Linked DNA regions of Homo sapiens. The protein of the gene in region 1 purifies or fractionates together with the protein of each later gene. This does not show direct contact. Each region holds a gene or a part of one and is shown on either strand. Other genes may lie near its edges.

Region 1 (5,305 bases):
CAGAACGCCAGTGGGTGGAGAGCAGCCCCAAGCCCATGGTTTCCCTGCTGGGGAGCGGCCGGCCCACCGGAAGTCCCCTCAGCGCTGAGTTCTCCGGTACCAGGAAGGACTCCCCAGTGCTGTCCTGCTTCCCGCCGTCAGAGCTCCAGGCTCCTTTCCACAGCCATGAGCTGTCCCTAGCAGAGCCACCGGACTCCCTGGCGCCTCCCAGCAGCCAGGCCTTCCTGGGCTTCGGCACCGCCCCAGTGGGAAGTGGCCTTCCGCCCGAGGAGGACCTGGGGGCCTTGCTGGCCAATTCTCATGGAGCGTCACCGACCCCCAGCATCCCGCTGACAGCGACAGGGGCTGCCGACAATGGCTTCCTGTCCCACAACTTTCTCACGGTGGCGCCTGGACACAGCAGCCACCACAGTCCAGGCCTGCAGGGCCAGGGTGTGACCCTGCCCGGGCAGCCACCCCTCCCTGAGAAGAAGCGGGCCTCGGAGGGGGATCGTTCTTTGGGCTCAGTCTCTCCCTCCTCCAGTGGCTTCTCCAGCCCGCACAGCGGGAGCACCATCAGTATCCCCTTCCCAAATGTCCTTCCCGACTTTTCCAAGGCTTCAGAAGCGGCCTCACCTCTGCCAGGTAGGTGTGTTTCCAGCTGGTTGGAAGGGCCCCTCTGTCCATTCACTGGGGAAGGGAAGGGTTCAGACCTGCAGCTGAGCTGGCATATCTCTAGTGCTGGGCTGGGCACCTGGAGAGGAAATCCAGAGCCGTTGGGGTACTTTTCCATTTTCCTCGTCCAAAACCAAGCACTGGCTCAGGCTTTTCATTCACTCTTCTTGGCTTCTGTGTTTGGCCACCTTGGATTCCTTCCAGTTGTAGAAAGTGCAGACATTTGCAGTGGTTCTACTTTCCATGTCACTTGGGAACATGGCTTTTTGTAAATAACAAATTCCTTGTCAAATTAAATTAATTCATCCAAAACGTCATTATGAAATATTTCAAGTGTATAAGAAGCAGTGTGGTCTATGGGTTGAACAACACCAACCTTACCCTCTCTTTCCTCACTACCTTCCTATGTATTCTTAAAATGTATTGCAAAGGCTCAATCCAAGCATCCTGTTGTTCTGTTTTGTGTTATAAAACAGTCACTGCCTCCTCCAACTCAGTCATTTCAAAGGCAGGGTTCCCTTTCCTTAGAACATCGCTCGCTTGCTTGCCCTTGGCATGGGATTTGGACTTCTGGGATCACAGCAGATGAGAGGTTGCAAGAAGAAAAGTGCCCATCATGGTCACTGTTTTTAAATTTTGCTTTACAGATAGTCCAGGTGATAAACTTGTGATCGTGAAATTTGTTCAAGACACTTCCAAGTTCTGGTACAAGGCGGATATTTCAAGAGAACAAGGTATGTGGGGAGGATGAGGGCCTCCTTGGGCATCTGCCCTAGTGCCCGCTTCGCTGCCTTGTGTGAAGATGGGCCCTGCGGTGGGAACATCGGGCAGCCGTGGCCTTCATATGGATTGAGTTTGAGCAGGGCCCACACGTTATTCCATGCCTCCTGGGGACATGCTACAACCTTTAAGTTTTTATAGGGGAAAACTCACTACTAATGAGGGAGTTGGTGAGGAATGGGCCCCAGCCATGAGCATTCCAGTGTGTAGGGTGTAATTTCTGGCTGCTTGCACCAGCCACTGGCTTGCCAGTGATGCCAGCCCACAACTGCTGACTGTGAGGAGGAGACACACTCTCCTGCATCTCCATGAAACCAGAGAGGACAGGGTGAGGAAGCAGGAGAGACACCCTCCTCTGAGAAGTCAGGGACACTGTGTGTTTGTGAACACCTACATAAGCACTTAATAATGAGACCCGGTTGTGGACTTAGCCGCATGCCTCACACACAAACCAGACAGAGCATCTCTCTGCTTGGTACAATGTCAGGCTTTTTTTTTTTTTTTTTCTAATTTGAAATCATTAATACTAATTTTTGAGCAATGAATATTTGAATATTTTGAGCATCACTTTTTACCAGAGCATGAATAGAAGAGATGTGGGAGAGGAAGGCTAGCAAGCTCTTCTGGGCAGCCCTGCTTGGAGACAGCCCCTGGGCAATGAGGAGAATTCATAAGGTGCTTCCCTCGGCTGTGGGATGGCTTTTCTCCCTGGATGCTGTGTCTCAGCTGAGCGTACCTTCCTCTGGATACCTCATTTTGGCAGTGCATAGAGTTTGTTGCTTCTGGGATATACCTCAGAAGAGATGGTGTGTGACTGGCAAGGCAGGGCAGGGCCATGCCTCCAGTGCCTGGAAGACGGAGTCAGGATTCCTAGGAACCAAAGTGAATCCCGGTGGCCACCTGGTGGAGGCTGGAGTGAAAGAGGGAATGGGTTGGTTTAAAGCGGTGAGAAATGACAAGCTGCCCGCAGTCAGCAGGAGACCCACTTGGCTCCTCTGTGCCTCTTTACCTCAACTTCAGAAGAAAATCAAGCTCTCTCCTTATGAAGATGCCTCAGGAATGCCTAGAAATGAATAGTTGAGTGGCAGAAAAATAGCTCTGTCCAGCTCTCCACTGAAATTCTGCTATTCAGTTATGTAGATGACAGAAATGGTAAGAATGTGCATCTCTTATGATCTCAAAGAAGCGATTGTCATTTTAAGTGGAAGAGAGAGAAAAAAAAGCCTGTGGCCTGGAAAGACCTTCATTTCCCTGAATTGGCCTTTGTGAAACACTGCTCACCATGGCTGAGGGCCTCTCTGCGGCCGGATGCTGTGTGCCTGTTGCCACCACCCTGGCCCTGCTTGTGTCTCAAGAATCCCGATGACTGTGGCCCCCAGTGCCTCGGCACCTCCTCCAGCTGGCCAAACTGAGAGGTGCCTATCCAGCACCTAAGAGATTCTGCACAGACCCTTCCACTCTATTGGTGCCGTCTTCTAGGGCAGGGCGATGTGTGGGGCTGGATGCCCCCTTCTCTCATTGTGCAATGTCATTGTAGCAGGGGGGATCTGAAACAGACAGATTTGGGTTGGAGTGCACTGCTGGCTTCCTCGGCAGGGTAGCAAGGTTCGAGCCTGCCGCGGGGGTTTGCTGAGAGCAGTGCCATGTGGAAGGTACCTGCCCTTGCTGGCGCCTGGTAGATGCAGGATAAGTGGATGTGGATGTGCAGTATGTGTAGGGGCTGCTGTTGGCATGTGCTTGATCTTCAGCACACATTGTAGAAGGTTTGCTGGGAGGACCCCATCTCAGGATGGCCAACATGTGCATCGAGTGTTGGTTTTTCCAGCTGAGCTCTAAAAGGATAACTTTCATTTTCTACATATTTTACATAGAAGAGACCTGTGCAGACGAACCTTCTACTGCCCGTGTCAGAGTCTCCAAACAGCGGAAGGCTGCCCTTGGGTGTCATTTATTTGGATTTTAACTGTCAGATGTGCCTTTTTCTAGAAAAGCTACAATGACATTTCAGGGTGATGCAGGAGGAAAAAAAACACCCAGATAACCTCTTTGGGAGTGCAATTTGTCACATACTTAATTCCTTGAGGTTTCTTAAAGCTAACATAAAAATACCTCAGGAGGAAAAGAGGACCTTAAAGTAAAATCAAAATTAAGTACTACTGTCCCAGTTGTACTTCTGGGGTGTTGCTTCTCCAGATGCTTCTCCAGATGCAGGGCGCGACAGTGTGAGAAGGTGCGAGGAGACTCACTTGCCTCCCCTCCCCTCATCCCTGTCTCCAGGTGAGGAATGCGATGCCAGTGCCAGGGTGGAGCACGCAGCTGCTGTGTGCAGTGTGTGGACGCTCGTTTTTCCAACTTCAGCACACCAGGCTCCTCAGCCTACTTCTGTTTGGAAAAACAGCGGGTCTAAAATTCTCCTCTTACTCCCATTGCCTGTGCAGGAGAGCACAGCCCCCTTGCACCCCTGCAGCCTGGCAGCTGGGGCTTCCCTCCTGGCATGGGGAGAACTGGTCGGAGCAAAGCCCGTGTTCCCTCCACTGCCATCCACAGGTGCCCAAAGTCTCAGTCCCGTGAGGCTTCTACACTTTATTTACCACAGAGAAGTAGAACCATGACTTACAAAAAGAAAAGCTCTGAGGTATATCACAGTTGAAACAAAATGTAAGTGATCTTTTGTCCTACTTAGAGAAAACAAAAAAGTAGGCCCGGCGCAGTGACTCACTCCTATAATCCCAGCAACTTAGGGAAGCTGAGGTGGGAGGATCACTTGAGCCCAGGAGTTTAAGGCCAGCCTGGGCAACATAGTGAGACCCAGTGTCTACCAAAAATTTTTAAAAATTAGCTGGGTGTGGTGGTGTACACTTGTAGTCCCAGCTACTCAGGAAGCTGAGGTGGGAGGATCACTTGGGCCCAGCAGGTTGAGGCTGCAGTGAGCTATGATTGTGTCACTGTACTTCAGTCTGGGCAACAGAGTGAGAGAGCCTATCTCAAAAAAATAAAAATTAAAAACTGAAAAAATGTCATTCACGTTCAGCCCCCAAGTTTATAGACTACGCTGTGAGAAAACGTGCACCAGAATTCAGGGTTTATTCCCAGGGCCTGTGCCCTGCCCCAGGAGGCCCCCCACCCAGCCCTGGGTCCCTTGCATGGGCGGCTGCAGGCCTGGCTGGAGCTACCAGCAGTCTCGGGCATGCACGGTGAGCCTGCCTGTGTTTTCCTGCCCATCCTTCCCACTGCGTGCTGTTTAGAAGCTCCTGCTTCATCCCCAGGGGCATGTTGAGCTCCTCCCCGTGCCCTCATCCTGTGCACAGGGCCACGGTGCAGACATTGAAAAATGTGTAAAAGAAACCATTCGTTTCATCCTATGGCCAGACAGATGCCTTGGCTGTGGGTCCGGTCAGGCCTGGGGGCATGTGAGGGGCCTCTGTGGGAGTGCGCCGTGGAGGTATTTACTGAGGCATGCCGGGGGCATCCCAGCACTTACTGGTTCATGTTCTGCGCCCTGATCGCTTCCAGGCAGAGCCTTTGGCATTCCAGAAAGGCAGCATTTCCATGGCTGTAATTATGTATAACTTTATACTCTAAATCCCCAGTTTTCCCTTTTTTAAAATAAAGAGTAAATGTCTAGAAAAGAAATTCTGAGATGTAGTCTAGTTATCAGGGAACACTCTGGCTTGTCTGGGCAGTATCGAGTTGAGGTTACTATTACCCTAACCCACTCCCTCTTCTTGGAAATGCCAGATTTTGGCCATGAAGGAGAGAGATTTTTTGAAGCAATGATTATGATTAGTTGAATGCCTACCAGCCTCACCAGGGAAGCTGGGTGACCCACTGTGCGAGGCCCTGGGTTGGCGGGCACATGGGGAATGTGTCC
Region 2 (4,402 bases), on another chromosome or scaffold:
GTCACGGCGCCCGCCCGTAATCCCAGCTACTTGGGAGGCTGAGGCAGGAGAATCACTTGATTCCAGGAGGCAGAGGTTGCAGTGAGCTGAGGTTATGCCACAGCACTCCAGCCTGGGCAACAGAGAGAGTCTCCACCACACACACACACACAAAATAATAATAATAATAATAATAATAATAAATGAATATTCACTGGAAATTTCTTATGCCTTATGTTTCTAGGGAAAATAAAAGAAGTTCATAGAGTGGATCACTTTATGCATGATTTCCAGAAGTATACTTACAAATTCATGCAGAATGTGAAATGAAAACTCACAAACTTGTCTTGGTCACAAACTTGTATTGGCTGGGTCTGTCACATCTGTGGTGGAGAGCAAATTCTACCCATTTTTTAATATCTGTGAACCACAATCTTGTAACACAATTTATCCAAAGATAATACCTTATTTTCTCTTAAATATTCTATAGCTTAGTGATTTATTAAAATGTGCATGTGTGTGTGTCTATATCTTAGTAATGAAGTAGTAGCATTTTTTAAGGATTGAAATAAATCTCCATTCATTGTCTTGTTATTACATAAGCCATTGATATCTTTAGAAGTAAAAACAATTGTCTTTGTAAGTAACAATACATTCTTTCAAAACTTTAATCAATTTTAAGAGCCTGTCACATTTTTTTGCAGGTAATAATGACTGACTCAAATATATATATTTGTGACAGTTAACTACTAAGTTCTCTCATGCTGTCTCTCTCCATATGTAGAGAATATAGCCTTTTAAAAGTCAACTATATAAGGTCTCTATGTATGGAGAGAGAGAGTACAAGAGAACTAAGTAGTTAACTATTAAAAATAACTTGCAATGAATTAAGGTAAACTAACAACTTTTTAATTTGGGAAGGTGAATTTTGAAGGGTAACTGTGTCTCATGCATACAAGCTAAACTATTTAGAATTTATCATGTCACATTTCACTTATTTTGAAAACTACTTTAAATATGTACTATTATATAACATGATGAGACACTGTAATGCCTTAGAAAGTGCAGCAATTGTGAAACCATGCTATTACTGGTTGCTTATATCTATCAAAATATTTTTTGAAAATGTTCTATTTTTCCAGGAATCAATACTTACCTGACATACTGCATCATATTTTCTCATAAATACTCCAATGTTTTTTTCATTTCAGATTATTTCTAACAATTATCTATATACCTAAATACATATATTGATTTTATATACATTTTTATGTTTGAAAGCATATCATATATATTGAAATTTATCAAACTACAGTATATAAATTTCTAGGTAATTACTTGCATTTCAAATCTTCCCAAAGAGCTGAAATTCTATAACACTATATTTATACATTTTTGCAAACTACTTATTAAATAAGACTTTCTCTTCATCAAATCATACACAAATATAAAGTCTATCACGCAAAAGTTCCATATTCCCTGGTTCTTCTTAAACAGTAATATAAATAGGCATATAAAATTACAAAAATTAGGATATGTAAGCTTTGCAATGATTTGTTTTCATGGCGTGATCATTTCATTATAGCCTAATGAATTTTGTCACAGTGTCTACAACTAGCAAAAGCAAGTTAAACAAACACACTTGCACAACCAGTAAAGAGGTAAAAAAACACCCTAGACCGTGCAGAAGATGTACAAGACCTCATTTTGGATATTTGATCCACATTACATACAAGCAATATTGTATCAGTACTGCTTTTGGCAAAATTTATCGGTAGTGCTTTATGTTGATGGATGACTTGTGTGCTTTTGGTTTTATTTATTTTTTTGGCCTTCAGCATGCTATTTGTTATTTTTTTCTGTAGGTGACCCCTGAAAGTACGTATGTAAACTGCAGCATAGAATGCAGTCCTAGAATATCTATGGCAGCAAAAGATGAGAGAGAAAAAGAGACAGAGAGAGACAGAGAGAGACAGAGACGGGGAGGAGTGGCGTTTATCTCCCATTATAATCAGTGGTAAAATTTCCTTAAATACATTTTGGCATTCATTTTCCTTTTGAAAACCTTGCTGTGGGGTCTACTTGCCCCTTTCAGAGTACTGCGCAACCTTCGCAAGAGACCATTTAGCACAAGTTTCCACCTTGGAGTAGATCTTCCTACCTTTCCAGTCTTAATTCTGTGTGAAATGGCTGCAAATCGATGGTTGAGCTCTGAGATTTGGGGCTCTACTAATTTCCTGCAGTGGTCACCGCGGTTTGCCATCAAGTTTGCTGCTTGGTCACGTGTAGAGTCCACCTTTGGGCGTATGTCATTCAGTTCTGCCTTTAAACGCTATATTCCATGAGCAAGAGATAGGACTTGAAGTTAGTAATTAATGAAGGTCAAGATAGAAAAAGAGAGCCAAACAGAGCGAGTGAGCAAGTGAGCGAGAAGAGTGAGAAAGAGAGAGAGAGAAAGTAAGAAAATGAGAGCAAGCACATGCAGAAAATACAAAGGGAGATAAAACCACAACTTCCATAAAACAGGACTAAAATGAAAATGCGTGTGATTTCAGAAAAATAGATCACCGTCCTTAAGTTTGATGCATGTCTATTTAAAATGTTTATTTAGTCCGAGGAAGGACAGGGATGTTTTCCCAACTATGTTGTTGCAACTATCATAATATATTCTATTTAGTCTTATTTTATTATATCGTTACTGAATTTAATAGTTGTGGAATGAACTAAGTATGTGCTCAGGAGGTCAGGTAGCTGAAGAACACTTTTCTATTCCTTCCTAGCACTTTCAAGTTCCTCTTTATTACATTGAGTGTCATAAGAAAAAAAGTGATTTTCTAACACATACGAATTTTCTGTCACATACAGAGGTACTGAGGAATGTTCTTCCTGACCTGCCGGGTCACAGAGGTTGAAGTTAAATAACTCAGACCCTATTATTCAAAAAGCCTTGAAGGAAATTCACCATAAGATGACATCTCTGACTATACATCAAGGGATAATGAAGAGCACAATACAGATCCACATCAAAATAAGCTTCAGACAATGGCATAAATGTGTTTTGGGGATAGCCTGGAATGAATTTATAGTTTTTCATTAAAGGTATATCGTAATCTGTGGAAAATATCAGAGGCATAAAAATAAATTGCATAGAAAGAAACATAATTTTTGAGTTTTCTTTAAATAGTAAACAACTAATCAATAAATTTATCAAACATTGCAGCAAAACAAAATAAAAAATGTTTATTGAAAAGAGAGCTGTTAAAATTCAACTCTACCTATTTAATTGGGAAAAGAGACATCATCAAATAGAAACAATGTAGTGTCTATAAGGTATATTTGCGTATTACACCTCTCATACCCTTTTATCGGAATCATTTTTTAAAGAAAAGATTAAGTTCCCCTTGAAAAAGAAGACAGGGCATCCTAACAGTCAGTTTTGAGACTAAAAGAAAGAACCCAAAGCCTAGTTTACATGTAGTTAAAAATGAAAACCTCAGCTTTACATAAGCCCAACATTAAGACTAATTACCAAGATTTGGATATGGCATAGGCAAAAAAATCAGCTGACTGGATTTCAGGTGTTCATTCAGATGGGCTAAATGAATGATAGTGTCAGATTGTTCTTTGTGTTAGACACAAGAATGTAGTACCACCATTGACAAAGGCAGAAATTTGCAATATGATTTCAAAATAAATCTTGGAATATCTTTCTGAACGGAGTTTACATTGGGTATAATTAACTGAGTGATGGATTTGAACAGAAAGTCAGATTACAGAACTCTTCAAAATCATTCATTTCCATTCAAAGGGGGAAGGAAGGAAAAAGGGAAAGATAAAGGAAGGAAGAAAGGATTGTTTTACTCTTATTAAGACGTCCTTAGTATCTTTTAGGACAAAGATGATTGAAGTAACTGGTGTACAATTTGGACATTACTTTTCATATTTTATTTGCTACCTTAAGCACGTCTTCTTTTTGCTGGGGTTTCTTTTTCTCTGATTCATCCAAAAGTGTGTCAGCCTGAATGATCCACTTTGTGATGTGGTCCACATTCTGGTCAAAAGTTTCCATGTGTTTCTGGTATTCCTTAATTGTACAGAGACATACCATGGCATTATTGGTTAGACAATATTCTTAAAGAATTTTTCCTATGTTCTAAAATGTTTAAAAGACAACAATAAAGTTTCATTGAGATTAGTTTTAAGTGGTATTTTCATATAGAATATTGCGTAAATATAAAGAAAAATATATTAAAATATTGTTATAGATATTGAATTAAGAGCCAGCATATACGTAGAATTGAGAAATTTTCAAACACAGAATTGTTACTGGTCACTTATGTATCTTTTTCTCGTGACAGAGAAGGGTGTAAAAGCTTCTAGCCTTTTCTCTTACCAACAAAAGATTTAACCACTCTTCTGCTCG
Region 3 (4,402 bases), on another chromosome or scaffold:
AAAAGCCAATTTTAAATTAATGAGGAAAATTATTTGGCTTTGATTCAAATGTTCTGATAGCCACCTCAAGTGTATTCATTAAATGAGGTGAGTATAAAAACATTTTAAAAATATTCTGAACATTATGAATCTACAAAAAACTAAATTATACACTTTAAAATGTAATTTTATGTAAAATGTAAATTGAAACATTTTATGCCTATCACTAGTTACCTTAAATTCATTTTCATTTCTTATTAATTATCAACTTTCCAACACTTTGCAATTCACCATAGCGACTGAATTTTTCTTTTCCTCTCCTATGGCCAGCCGGAAAATGCATAGACAACATACTTATAAAAAAATTAAGAACTGTAAATTTTAAAAAACTATTCAAAACACCTTAGTATATCTCTTCACATTCAAAGAAGAATCATTACCATGTAAAAGAGAATCACAGTTTCATAATACATCAATATATAAGATAACCAAAGGATCTTTTTGTCACATCCAATTATTTCAACAAAGTACAATATTACCTATTATTACCTCCCAGATATAGAAGTCTCATCATAAAGAAAAGTGCCAGCTAAGGCCAACTATAATTAAGAGAACTTACAGTGCCATGCCCATTTGCTTCAAAATAAACTCCAATGTCAAACTCTTGAGCCTTGTGGTGCAAATGTTTTACACCAGTCTTAGTGCAATAGACAGGTACCTATAACACATGCATTTAAAGAAATACAGCAATTACTCAGATGTCAAATGTTTCTTGCATACCTAGTATCCCAGAGATACAAAGGGGAACAAAATACTGGGGCCGAGTCCAGTGAGGAAGACGATTAAGCATTAAAATACAAAATGGTACGTATACAATGGAAGCATGAACACACTCTGGAAGCACGCAGCCAAGGGTAAAGCACGGTGAGAGAGATGAGGGTCTCCTTATAAGACACGAAAGATTACAAGTGGGGGCGTGACATGACCTAACTGTTTTAGAAAGCTGTTTAGCTACAGTGTGGAGAATAGCTTAGAGCAGAATTGCAAGCTTTTTCTGTAACAGGCCAGACAGTAAATATTTTAGGCTTTGCAGGCCATATGGTCTCTGTCACAATTACTCTGCCATTACAGTGCAAAAGCAGCCACAGACCATACATAAACAAATCAACATAGCTCTATTCCAATAAAACTTTGTTTGCAAATAGCAGCAAGTTCAATTAGAAGGTTAAGAAATGGAATGAGGAGGCTTCTAGGACTAATCCCAGTAAGAAATAGTGGCTGGATCAGCAATAGTGAATAGGGAAAGTCATGGATGGATGGATCTGAGAGAGCTTTAAGAATGGTTAAGGAAAGATTGATAGTAGAAAAACTGCAAAAGAAAGATCAGCATTAGATTGGATGTAGGAGACCTCAGGAATGGCAAGGGCTAAAAATATTTCATCTGGAAGACAGTGAGTTGAGAAGTAACAGTTTCTTAAACTAGGTTATTTTATCTGTAATAAATTTTTAAGACAGAAAATGAAAATCCTAAAACAATAACCCAAGTACTGTGAAATAACCCAATCCCTGTGAAAGGCAGGCAAATGGGCCCCAGATGGAATCCCTTGAATGAGCTTATTATAACCATATATTAAAATCAGGTCATAAACTAGCAGCCTCAAGATATATTTCGTTTTGCCCAGCCACTGTTTCTTTTTAAACAAATAGGAACATCACATGAAAATTCAGATTTCCTGCTTCTCTTGAAGAGTGTGACTACAGTTGACATCAGCTGGCACATACTGACCTGTTTTTAGCCCCCTGCTGCCCTCATTCACTTTACCTGTCCAAATCCTGCAGGAATCTGACTTTGTAATTCCTGCTTTCTAGAGAATGGAAAGGTAACTAAAACTAGTATAAATGCCAGAACGAGGTACAAAATGAGGTACAAAAAAGTTGGAAAACTTCTCGATAATGAGAAAGTATAGGCAAACAGACTTCCAGTTTTGTCCATGAACCCTGGTAACTCTCCGAGCAAGTAGTGTGGTGCCAAGGGTGGTCACCTGGTGGACACCGGGGAAATAATTAGAAACAGAATCTCCCACCACCCCAGAAAACCTCTCCAAAAAAAAAAGAAGGGTAAGAAACAGTTTTATTACTGAATAAGTATTAAGCCAAACTGATGTTCAATCACAGGCTAATTTGCTAAGAGATAGCAAAGATAAACGCTCACCCTTTAATATAGCCAAGCGGACACATTCCAATACAATTTGCTAAGATAAAAGATGGCTAATGACAAAAATTCTCTCCTTGACCAAACTTTAGTTAGGTTTAGGTGGGCCTGACTAGGCCTTGTCCTTAGGCATGTCTTCCAATAGCCCGATTTTAATAAGAGTCATGCTAAGTGAGCTTAGCGAGAATCCCTCATCCTGATACATGACCACTCTTGACATCTGATCTGAGTTCTCATTCTCTACCATCCCCCAGGTAATATGTGACCGCCCTGGCCTACCTTCAGCAAAAGTCCTGTTAGATCAGTTTAGCCAAAATACCACCCACTTACCCTCATGTTTCCTCTCAGTAATTTTTCATCCACTGACCACCCCCCACACACCCTGCTCCTTGGCTATAAAGCCCTACTTTTCCTTACTATATTTGGAGTTGAGCCCAATCTTTCTCCTACCACTGCAAAACTCCATCACATTAGTCCCTGTACCTATCACAACAGTCCTGAATCAAGTCTGCCTTACCATTTTAACAAGTGTCATGAATTATTTTTTCTTTAACACTAGTCCTCAAATAGGAAAACTTGAAACCACCATTTGTCACACACATAGTTTATCCTAAACTTACTTGGTAATAGGGATGGCCACCTGTGTTAACTGCCCTTCTCTAAAGGAGTAATAAAACTTTTCATACCTCTGTGACAGGTAGATAGTTACAAATTGGACGCAAACACCTAAGTTAAACTCTCCTGAGACTGGGAGATAGGTGAGCTATCTTCCTTGATGTTTATATTTGAAATTGGTGACTCTAGGCCCTTAAAGAAAAGTATTCCTGAGCTATAAAACTGGCTTATTAGGCCTTTAGAAAGACTTACATTCATTACAAAGGCACAGAGAAAGAATTCCAAGTTTTCTAAAGGAAAACTCCAAGAAAAGGAAGGAAAGAAGTTTTCCTTTATTCATCAAGGACAACTAAATTTTTTCTTATTTATTTCTCTTTACCTTTACATGAACAGCAGCTCAGCTTCATGCACTACAACATAATCACTTTTATGAGGGCAGTATCTTTCTCACAGAAACATGATCTTAATTAAGAAACTACCAGAAAACAAAAATGGTTCAATACCTTCATAACTTCTTCAAGATACCGTGTTGAACTTCCATTTGCATATGCAGTTTGTACAACACCAATATTCAAACTTTCTCCAATCTAGACAAAAACAATGATACTTAACTTGCCATCAAAAGTATGGTCTACAAAAACAAATATAATGAGAGTTCTAAAGGCTACCAAAATTATCAGCCAGTTCAGTTGTGCCTTAGTTTATGCCAAAAATGTCTGACTGAAAATTTACATGTATGCCAGGAAAAAAGCCTAAAATACATTTGAACACTATTTAAAACAATTCTATGAGAATTCCTCTTTTAAGAAGCCTGTATCTCCTGATCTTCACCTCTTTAATTTTTTAAATAAAAGTATCTGGCCAGGCACGGTGGCTCACGCCTGTAATCCCAGCACTCTGGGAGGCCAAGGTGGGTGGATCACCTGAGGTCAAAAGTTCGAGACCAGCCTGGCCAACATGGTGAAACCCCATCTCTACTAAAAGTACAAAAATTAGCCAGGTGTGGTGGCATGCATCTGTAATCCCAGCTACTTGGGAGGCTGAGGCAGAAGAATTGCTTGAGCCCAGGGAGGCAGAGGTTGCAATGAGCCGAGATCACGCCCCTGCACTCCAGCCTGGGCAACAGAGCAACACTGTCTCAAAAAAAAAAAAAAAAAAAATCTATTAAATTCTTAAAGTATGCTGTTTCCAGATTATAATAATTTCCAATTACATTGTGTACTTAAAGCTAGCCTGAGATTTATTTCTAAAATAGCAAAATGAAACAAATCTCACATTACTAAGCTTATCATAATCAGTTAATATATCAGATGATGAGATTTCCTATTAGAATTTAGGGCTTTTATGGAGTGACCACAGAACTGTCATCAAAGTTTCAATTATGATGGAAGCAAAACTTCCTAAAGCTTCAAATCACAAAACTCAGCCAGTATAAGGAGGAAAAGAGTACCTTCAGGTTCCAAAGCCAATGCCTCAAATGTTCAAATGACTGGGTATTACCACTGCTCTTTTTTTAATTTTCTGCCCACTAATGTAAAGAATTTGTCATAAATTGTGCCCTTCTGACAAATGATTGTAAAATATGGAACTATTTCA
Region 4 (4,402 bases), on another chromosome or scaffold:
AAAGGTACTCCTAAATAATCTTTTTTTTTTTGAGATGGAGTCTTGCTCTGTCGCCCAGGCACTGGAGTGCAATGGCACTATCTCAGCTCTCTGCAACTTCTGCGTCCTGGGTTCAAGCAATTCTCCTGCTTCAGTCTGATGAGTAGCTGGGATTACAGGTGCCTGCCACCACACCCGGCTAATTTTTGTATTTTAGTAGAGACGGGGTTTCACCATGTTGGCCAGGCTGTCTCAAACTCCTGACCTCAAGCAATCCAATCTCCTTGGCTTCCCAAAGTTCGGGGATTACAGGCGTGAGCCACTGTGCTTGGCCTGATCCTTTCTTTAGCTACAAGGTTGAGCTATGGAGAATATGAGAGTATGAAATATTTTTGGAAGAAAAATTCTGGGAGGAAGGGTCTTTTCTGAGAAAGTGTCATTAAATAGGAAAAGTATAATTTCCCTTTTGAGCTAGAATTGTATTTGCAATTAGAAGCTTCTCGTTGCAGAAGTCGTTCTTTGACATTATTCTTTGTTCCTTAAGATTTCCATGAGGACAACTTACAAGGACCTGTATGGCCTCATTTTAGCTGCTTCAGTGTGTTGGAGCTGTTACTTGCTCCTTCATTTCCTGGGCCTGGTGTGACAGTGGCTACTGAGCGCCATGAAGGTTGTCCCAGAAAAGAATGCTGTCCGGATACTCTGGGGGCGAGAACGGGGTGCTCGGGCCATGGGAGCTCAGCGGCTTCTGCAGGAGCTGGTAGAAGATAAAACCCGGTGGATGAAATGGGAGGGCAAGGTAAGGAAAATGGCTATATTTCACATAGGATTTGTGCTGGTGATGGTAGAATGAGACCTTAGAATGGGTTAACAGCAGAGAGTTGGGATATATTTATCTTGTGTGGGAGAGTTGACATATCTGACTTAGGGAGTTGTTTGTAAATTTGAAAGAACTAATGTGCTAGAAATATCTTTTTCCTTTAGAGCTAGACAGTTTTCCTGAAGGTAATTTAGGTTTATCTCTCTCAATTTGTAGCTTGATCATTGTCTCCAGTTTTTAAGCCTACACTGTGAATGCTAATCTAGAATGGTTAATGTGCTTTTGAGATACGGTGAACCATGGTCTACAAATCATGTATTTTAACTTTTTTTTTTTTTTTGTCTCCCAGAGAGTAGAACTGCCGGATAGTCCACGCTCTACCTTCTTATTGGCCTTCAGCCCAGACAGGTACTCAGTATTTATCTATAACTTAAGATTTGTGATAACAGTGCTTTCTGTATATTTGGCCTGGCTTGATCTTCCAAGTCAGTCCCTAAAGTCTCTCTGAAGTACTGTATGAACAGCACTTTGGCCCCGTGTCGGAAAGGGAAAGAAAGTAGATGAGCAGTGCTAACCTGAAAAATCATGAGAACAAGCAAAGGAAACTGAGAGGATCAAAACTTGGAAAGTTTCTCAATAACAATCATTTGCCTGTGTGATACAGCTCACCAGTGGTATGATGGTTTTTCCAGTGGGAAAAAATATTTTCCGAATGTGGCATGTGTCATTTGGGGACAGTGTGGACAAGCCAAAAGCTTTTAAAGATCAGAATATTTCTGTTTGTAGATATACTGCCTAACATACAAAGCTTAGTTTCTTTCATGTTGGGATTGGCAGGTAGCATCAATATTCTATGTCGTCCAAAGTTGATAAGATTGGTTACCCTTCCACATGCTTCTGAATTCAGTTCTACTCTTTGATTTTCTAGGACTCTCTTAGCCTCCACCCATGTGAACCATAATATCTATATTACGGAGGTGAAGACTGGCAAGTGTGTTCATTCCCTGATTGGACACCGCCGTACTCCATGGTGTGTCACTTTTCATCCCACCATCTCAGGCCTTATTGCTTCTGGCTGCCTAGATGGGGAGGTTAGGATTTGGGATTTACACGTGAGTATTTCCTTAAGATACCCTTTTCTTTTGGTGTTCTAATTTTTTTTTTTTGAGACGGAGTCTCGCTCTGTTGCCCAGTGGTGTGATCTTGGCTCGCTGCAACCTCCGTCTCCCAGGTTCAAGTGATACTTCTGCTTCAGCCTCCCAAGTAGCTGGGATTACAGGCATGTGCCATCATGCCTGGCTCATTTTTGTGTTTTTAGTAGAGACGGGGATTCACTATGTTGGCCAGGCTGATCTTGAACTCCTGACCTCAAGTGGTCTGCCTGCCTCGGCCTCCCAAAGTGCTGGGATTACAGGCATGAGCCACCATGCCCGGCTTCTTTTGGTATTCTAAATGCAGAGACTTGTTTACCATTGGTTTTTTAATTCTGGAAGAGCCTAGCCAGATTCTTAGGACTACATCTGAATATATTGTTGTAGACATTGCCCACTTAATTAATAGGAAGTCTAATTCCCTGTCTTCCATTCCTTTTTTTTTTTTTTGCAATAGCTTAAGCATGCCCTGAGATTGTCTTCCATTCTTGCTAAGATGAACATCTACTTTTGCTTCCTTCAGCCCGTTGTGACATAGTACAGGAGGCTCTAAGATATGTTCAGGTTGGATTTCTGTTGTCTTAGGGCATCTTTGCCTAAGTACAGATATTCCTGTACTCCGATCATGATCATCAAAGCAAGATCCTCTTTGTCCTAGTAACTGGCTAGCGGGTTGTCTTGCACCATGTTGTGCACCGAGCTTGAGTTTTTCTCAGGCTTTGCATGGAACTGTGGGCTGGGCGCGGTGGCTCACGCCTGTATTCCTAGCACTTCAGGAGACCAAGACAGGAGGATTGCTTGAGTTCAGGAGTTTGAGACCAGCCTGGGCAGGATATTATACCAAAAATATTATACACAAAATTATATAAAATTAGCTGAGCATGGTGCCATGCGCCTGTGGTCCCAGCTACTTGGGAGGCTGAGGTGCGAGGATTGCTTGAGCCTAGGAGGCAGAGGTTGCAGTGTGCTGAGATTGTGCCACTGCACTCCAGCCTGGGTGACAGAATGAAACCCCCTGTCAAAAAAAAAAAAAAAAAAAAGAAATAGGAACTGTGTATATATGCTTAATGCTTGTAGATTGTGACTAATTTGAAGAACTGAACTGATTGTATAGTATTTATCTGATAAATTAGTGGCACTACCAGATCGCTGATCTTCTACATCTTTTTACAGAGGATGTATTTAAAGTAGTCCCTAGACATAGTCATTTTACCTTAAATGGACCTTTCTTGAAATTGACTTCCCAGTGTGCTGGTAGCTTGTAACCTGAGAATATCTGGAATTGGTTCATTCACAGGGTGGCAGTGAAAGCTGGTTCACAGATAGCAACAATGCCATTGCCTCCCTGGCTTTCCACCCTACGGCTCAGCTCCTGCTGATTGCCACTGCCAATGAGATCCACTTCTGGGACTGGAGTCGACGGGAACCCTTTGCTGTGGTGAAGACAGCTAGTGAGATGGAACGGGTCCGGTGAGTGCGCTGCCCCATCTGCATTGTCTGGCACAGGACTGACGTGATAGAGAACATTCTACTGGCTGTCACCTTGGAAGTCAGGTTGTTATCCCTGCTCAGGGCAAGTTGTCATCCTCATAGCTCCTCCTATTTTTTTTTTGAGACAGGGTGTCACTCTGTCACCCAGGGTGGAGTGCAGTGGCGCAGTCTTGTCTCACTGCGACCTCTGCCTCCTAGGTTCAAGCGATTCTCGTGCCTCAGCCTCCAGAGTAGCTGGGATTGCAGGCACCCACCACCATGCCCGGCTCATTTTTTTGTATTTTTAATAAAGATAGGGTTTCACCATGTTGTCCAGGATGGTCTTGAACTCCTGGCCTTAAGTGATCCGCCCACCTCAGCCTCCCAAAGTGCTGTGATTACAGGCATGAGCCACCATGCCCACCACCACCCCCCCCCCCCCGGCTTTTTTTTTTTTTTTAAGGAGACAGGGTCTTGCTCTGTTACCCAGGCTGGAGTACAGTTGTGCAGTCATGACCTCATGGGCCCAAGTTACTGCAGCCTTGACCTCATGGGCCCAAGCAATCCTCCCACCTCAGTCTTATGAGTATCTGGGACTACAGGTGTGTGCAGCCTCTCTCAGCTAATTTTTAAATTTTTTCGTAGAGATTTGGGGGGCGGGGCCTCACTGTGTTACCCAGGCTAGTCTCGAACTACTGGCCTTCAGTGATCCTCCTGCTTTAGCCTCCCAAAGTATTGGGATTATAGGTATGAGCCACTGCACCTGGCCGCCTCCTGCTTTCTAAGCAGCTGACTAATCAGCTGGGAGACATTCATTTTGTTCATTTCAGCTTTCCCTTATTGGCCTCATCTTCTGGTTTTTGGAGATCAGGGTCATTAGACTCTCTTTTAGTTTCAAAGCTAACTGTTTTGGATAGTACTTCTTTGGGAAAACCTGAAAGAAGTTTGGGTGGTATTTTAGATACCTTGGTGGGTTGTCTGT

Evidence for each region.
Region 2: the proteins of TNS3 (region 1) and DMD purify together in Homo sapiens (affinity purification with mass spectrometry; one large-scale study listed by BioGRID and IntAct). This does not show direct contact.
Region 3: the proteins of TNS3 (region 1) and PGM3 purify together in Homo sapiens (affinity purification with mass spectrometry, with the first as the bait; one large-scale study listed by BioGRID). This does not show direct contact.
Region 4: the proteins of TNS3 (region 1) and AMBRA1 purify together in Homo sapiens (affinity purification with mass spectrometry, with the first as the bait; one large-scale study listed by BioGRID). This does not show direct contact.

What each region holds. Positions count from the first base shown.
Region 1 is NC_000007.14:47,298,269-47,303,573, reverse strand, and holds part of TNS3 (tensin-3), read left to right. Parts: coding exon 1-624; intron 625-1,301; coding exon 1,302-1,388; intron 1,389-5,305. UniProt on the Homo sapiens protein: May act as a protein phosphatase and/or a lipid phosphatase. Involved in the dissociation of the integrin-tensin-actin complex. EGF activates TNS4 and down-regulates TNS3 which results in capping the tail of ITGB1.
Region 2 is NC_000023.11:32,360,648-32,365,049, forward strand, and holds part of DMD (dystrophin), read right to left. Parts: coding exon 4,373-4,402; intron 4,064-4,372; coding exon 3,935-4,063; intron 2,312-3,934; coding exon 2,141-2,311; intron 1-2,140. UniProt on the Homo sapiens protein: Anchors the extracellular matrix to the cytoskeleton via F-actin. Ligand for dystroglycan.
Region 3 is NC_000006.12:83,175,364-83,179,765, forward strand, and holds part of PGM3 (phosphoacetylglucosamine mutase), read right to left. Parts: intron 3,394-4,402; coding exon 3,310-3,393; intron 698-3,309; coding exon 599-697; intron 1-598. UniProt on the Homo sapiens protein: Catalyzes the conversion of GlcNAc-6-P into GlcNAc-1-P during the synthesis of uridine diphosphate/UDP-GlcNAc, a sugar nucleotide critical to multiple glycosylation pathways including protein N- and O-glycosylation.
Region 4 is NC_000011.10:46,544,622-46,549,023, reverse strand, and holds part of AMBRA1 (activating molecule in BECN1-regulated autophagy protein 1), read left to right. Parts: intron 1-523; 5' UTR 524-643; coding exon 644-778; intron 779-1,148; coding exon 1,149-1,207; intron 1,208-1,727; coding exon 1,728-1,911; intron 1,912-3,247; coding exon 3,248-3,420; intron 3,421-4,402. UniProt on the Homo sapiens protein: Substrate-recognition component of a DCX (DDB1-CUL4-X-box) E3 ubiquitin-protein ligase complex involved in cell cycle control and autophagy.